2 separate regions of the Homo sapiens genome follow, and region 1 is linked to region 2. The links come from fine-mapping of genetic effects on gene expression. Tissue or cell type: whole blood. Region 2 holds a variant in brackets; the other region holds the start of a gene. All regions are shown on one strand. Distances are from middle to middle.

The links. PIP is the estimated chance that this variant, and not a neighbour inherited with it, causes the effect.
Region 1: it holds the start of RECK, and the variant in region 2 is fine-mapped to the expression of RECK in whole blood (INTERVAL, PIP 0.94).

Annotation. Positions count from the first base shown.
Region 1 is chr9:36,035,472-36,038,078 of GRCh38, reverse strand. RECK (reversion inducing cysteine rich protein with kazal motifs) reads right to left here and starts at 1,166. Exons shown (of 21, transcript NM_021111.3): 1 at 981-1,166. The coding sequence starts at 1,080. RefSeq lists silencers at 887-1,036, 1,047-1,246.
Region 2 is chr9:36,134,960-36,137,715 of GRCh38, reverse strand. It overlaps GLIPR2 (GLI pathogenesis related 2), which reads right to left and starts at 983. Exons shown (of 5, transcript NM_022343.4): 1 at 925-983. The coding sequence starts at 937. RefSeq lists silencers at 682-731, 762-1,331. The variant A/C (reference allele first, on the strand shown) is at 1,074.

The DNA of each region.
Region 1 (2,607 bases), 100 kb after region 2:
CACCTCCCAAAGTGCTGGGATTACAGGGGAGAGCCTACCGCACCCGGCTGACTTTGCTTTTTTTTTTTTTTTTTTTAAGGTGTCTCTGCCTGTCTCCCTGTAAGCAATGCACTTCACCACTTTTGCATGCACACGTCCTAGCCATCTTTCAATGTCTAGTACAGCTAGGGGGAATCACTCCACTTTCCACTCATCCTAGGTCGATGTCCTCTCTCCCTCTGTGCACTCATACATGGCCCTTCATTTCCTCTGGACATTTCTGCCTTGAATTCGAGTTACTTCAATCTCCTGCTGTACCCCATCTCCTACCGAGAGAGCTTTTGGACGGAAGGAGTCGGCGTGCACTCAAAAGGCCAGCAAGCGGGAAGCAATCAATAAGCACTTAACAGTTTCCTATCCATCCTTGGTTTAGTTCTTGTAGAGCAAGAATTTCTCTCCTCAAGCCTGCCAGCCCCCGGGGGACAGGGTTTACTGATTTTTAATGTCTCCTGCCCGAGTCCAGGACCCACCACGCGGGCTGTGGGGACCGTCAGTGCTCACCGCCACCAAGGTCGTTATGAACCAAGTGCGGGTCAAGTAACAAGTAACAATAACTAACTAGGGCCGCGGTAGGGCGGCTGCGTATCCGAAATCCCATCTAAACCTCGCGACGATCCTGGGCGGGGGCATCGCACCCTTTTCTGACAAGCAGCAGAGGCAAGCGAAGGGGTCAGTGCCGAAGAGGGGGCCCGTGTCGGTGGGTGACAGACCAAGGCCTCAAACCCGAGTCACCGCCCAGAAGATCTTGGGGCGGAGAGAGTTCCTCACTCGCCCCGCCTCGGCACCAGCCTCTGGAGCGCTGAGACCTGGGGTCCCGGGGTCGCCGGACGTGGGCAGGGTCTGGGGGTCGCGCGCACCCCCGCCCCCTGCCCCGCGCCATCTTGGAGCGCTGTGGCGGCCGCTCCCGACAGCTTCGAACCGTTGCTCTGGAGGTTACTCACCCGCACTGCCCGGAGCCAGGCCCCCTGCCACCTCCGCGACCCCCGCCACGGCCAGCAGAAGGAGCAGCGCACCTCGCAGAGAGGCCCGGACGGTCGCCATGTCCGGGCCGGGCGGCTCCAGAGCCGCGGGATGCTCGGACCCAGCTTGGCCGCAGCCGCTGCCGCCGCTACCGCCGCCGCTCGCGCGAGGCCCCGCCCCCAGCGCCCGGCCCTTTGGTGACTGGCTGCGGCCCGCTCAAGCCCCGCCCCCTGCCTCACAGTGTTTCCAAAACCTCCCGGGGGCGGGAACGTGCCCCGTACCAGGGCTCTTTGTTATGGCCCAACTGTGTGTCGGCTTCTGCCAGGAGTCCACCAGCCCACGTTCTCCCAGAGTGAAGTCAGAGGATGTCAGAGCTGGGAGAGTCATTAGAAAACCTCTGCCACCTCCTGAGGTTTCGGGCCACTGAGGTGAGAGAGGAGACTGACCTTACTCAAGATCACACTGCAAGTTCACCTGAGAACAAGGGCTTAGTCCAAGGCCGAACCAAAGGGGCTTCTCTCCTTCATGTACCCTCAGTAATACTCGCAATATTCTTTCTGCCGAGACGCTGCCTCGCACCCAAAGAAAGCATGTCACCCGGGATCCTTCGGCCTCCCGCAGACACGGCCCCCTGACAAGGGTTCATCACTAGAGCTCTTTGGCACTATAGCCTCAATGTGTCTTTGTTGTACTTTAAAAATTATTTATTTATTTATTTAGGCAAGAGTCGCTCTGTCGCCCAAGCTGGGGTGCAGTGGCGCGATCTCGGCTCACTGCAACCTCCGCCTCCCGGGCTCAAGCGATCCTCCCACCTCAGCCTCCTGAATAGCTGGGACCACGGGCGCAGGTGACCACGCCTGGCTAATTTTTATATTTTTTTTGCAGAGAAGGGGTTTCACCATATTTCTCAAGCTGGTCTCGAACTCCTCGCCTCAAGCAATCCCCCAGCCTCCTCCTCCCAAAGTACGGGGATTGCAGGCGTGAGCCACTGTGCCTGGCCTTGATGTTACTATTAAGCACCTATTCCTGATAGGAAAAGAGGATAGGAGAACGCTTGTATACCTAGATGTGGAAAGCCTTGAATATCCGGCTGAGAAGTATAGACTTTGTCCAAGAGACAAGTTGGAAGTGGGTCCCACCCCACCCATCAGCCCAGCAGCTACGTGGAGAATGTTTAAGCCACTGGCTAGCAAAGCTAATTCATTGTCTCTTTTTTTCTCTGTGTGTTCCTGAATTAAACCCTTTTTCCTCCTTTTTTGAAAAAGCATGACCACCGTTTTAAATTCTCATGAAGACACCTGGGGCTAAATTACTTAAAACATTTTTAAAATTCCTTAATATTATTAAATATCCAGTCATTATTTACATTTTTCTTATTGTCTCATGATTTCTTTTTACAATTTTTCAAGTTCTAAACAAAATCCATATATTAAAGTTGGTTTTTATGTTTTTGGGCTCTTACATTTATCCTCTCTTTCGAGTTTACAAAAGGAAAACATGAATAAGTTAAAATATCTAAAACATCTCCTCTGATGACTCTGTTGCTTCTGTGTACAAGGTAAACTGAGGCACAATAAAATTTTAAAGTTTACTTCAGCACGCGGTGAT
Region 2 (2,756 bases):
AGATAAACACGGCCCCTGGCAGCCAGGGGTGAGGACCCGGTGGGAAACAGGTCTATGGCTGAACTCTTGTCCCCGGCCCACTACAGGAAGGGCTGCAGCGAGGAAAACACCAGGTTGGGCGCTCCCTCCCGGGGGGAATCACAGATGGGCTCCAGCCCAGGAGCTGAGCCTAGAGGGATGGGATTTTCAGGCTGAGAGTTGGGGTGGTGAAGGCCCGGCAAGGAAACCTAGGGGAAGGGACCTGTGCACCAGCTTCTGGACAGCTCTAGTGTAGGGCGGAGGTAAGGGCTAGGGACCCACTCCCAGGGGCCCGAAGGCAGGACTGGAGTGTGTCCTTTCACTCTGAGGACAATGGTGAGGAAGGTGTTAGGGAGCGACAGGAGGAGAGCTGCGCTGCAGAAAGTTCATCCCGACAGCCACAGTAGAGAGGATGGGGTGCCCCAGGAGAAAGGGAGCCAGACCGAGCCTAGCACAGGGGGAGCCCGGCACGGCGCGGGCGCTCAGGAGAGAAGGAACAACAAATGGATGAGGGGGATGCTCAGGGCTGTCCTCGGGACAGCCGAGCGGGGCAAACTGCTTCGCAGCGAGAGCTGTTGTCACACTTTGGTGACTTTTCCAACTCTAAGTCTGGCCTCCTGAAACAAAGCAGAAGCCACGCCTTGGCGGGCCGCGGCGCGCAGCCCCTCAGGGTCGGGAAGCCCAACTTGGCGCGATCCCCGGCTCTCCGGCGGGGGCCTCCCTCGGGCTCGCCTTCCCCCCGGGTTCCCCGGAAACCGCGCCGGGGCGCTCCGCCCGCGCGCCCTCCACCCGCACCCCGGGCTCCCGCACTCCCCAGGACCTGGCTTGCGGCGGACGAGGGAGACGGCGAGGTCCGGGAGCGCGGGGTTCCGAACCATTCCGCAGCGGGCGAGCCCGCGGGCTCACCTGACTTGCCCATGGCCGGCTCCGCGCGCTCCTCGCTCCCCGCGGCTGCGCTGCACTGCGCTCGCCCGGCCCAGCGCCGCCCCAGAGCCCAGGACCGGGCTGATGCCGCGGCCCCTCCTCCGGCGCCGCCCGGCCCCCGCCTTATAAGG[A/C]GCGACAGCTGAGGGCGGAGGCGCCCGGGGCCACCCCGTGGGCCTCCCGGAGAGCTCACCCCTGGGAAGCAGCTCCGCGACTGCCGAGGGCTCCCCGGATGCGGCCGCGGGGCTCAAGCCTCCCGGACCCCACACCGAGCTGTCCCTTCCCGGGGCGCGTGGGGAAGCCCGCGCCTGCTGGGCCCCGGGTGGCTGCTCTGCGCCGACGCGCGGCGAGGACAGAGGGGCGCGCGGTCGCGGCACGAGGGGCGTTCCGGCCGGCGCCACCAGGGGACGGCCTCTCCCTGCCGCGGCCTGACACGACACACGCAGCCCCGGGGTGTGCCCCCATCTCCGGTGACTCTGGGCTCCGGAGGGCGGCTGGTCCGGGGAGGGGGATGCTCCTCTCCTAGGACACGCCCTCTAATGCCAGTCGGGGTGGAAGCGCCGCCGCCTCTGACCCGTCCACTCGCCCCTCATTGCCTCCCAGACCAAGCCAATTCCCACCCCTGCAGTCTGGCCCCAGACCTGTCTCCCCAACGCCCCACCTTTTCCCCATACTCCAGTCAAACTAGATGTCTTGTCATTCCCCAAACATGTTCTGGGATTTCCCACCTCCCTGCCTTTCCTCAGGCGGTCCCTCCTCCGGGAGTGCTGGCCCTGGAGCCACCATTCCAGTGCTGCCCATCCCTCGGGGTCGGCCGGTCTTTCCAACTGCCAGGTGCCCTGACCCTGGGAGCAGCACACACCAGGTACTGGGGAGATGTGGTCCCACCCATGGCCCCTGCCCCGTGGGAGAAGTGCACTTACTTGACCGCACAGCCCTAGTCACCTGTGCCAGACTTCCCGCAAGCGCTCCTTTCTGGGGAAGGGGCTCAGTACACCCCAAATGAAGGAAGCGAATTTTAAGGCTTTTCAATGAATGGGCACTGAAGTGAGCTGACCCACTGATGATAAGGCTAGAATTTGTAATACCAACGGCTTACGAATGTCCCGCAGGGCGATGGCTGGGCACTGTGCTCTCTATTCCTTTCCCCATGTCAGGCAAATACACCTACTGTATTTTAGTACCGTCATGAGTAATGACATTTCAGTCAATGCCAGACCACATATACTGTGGTAGTCCCAAGAGATTATGATACCATATTTTTACTATGTTTCTATGTTTACATCTGTTTATATATGCAAATTTTTACCATTGTGTTACAGTCACCTAAAGTATTCAGTATGGGTCAAATTGGTGCCCAACCCTGATTCAAAAGGGACTCCTGGGGCTGGGTGCGGTGGCTCACGCCTGTAATCCCAGCACTTCAGGAGGCGGAGGTGGGAGGATTCTTGAGCCCAGGAGTTCAAGACCAGCCTGAGGCAATATAGTGAGACCCCCCCTCCCATCTCTATAAACAAACAAAAGGGACTCCTGGTGCTAGGTGGGGATCTAACCCCCTCTATTCAATTCCCTCTCCCATTTTGTCAACAAATGCCTATTGAAATAATCAAATAAACACAGTAGGAAGAATTCCATGTTGCCCCTAGAATCTCTAGAAGGCTGTATTTCACATAACAAAAACTTTAAGGCCGTGGGTGGAGACAGTGAGGCTCAGCGGGCTGCTCACTGCACGCAGAGGGAAGCCCATCTGGGACCACCATGTTTCACTGACACCTTGAGGTCTGAGGACTGGAGGTGAGAGGGGCTGAGAGTGGATG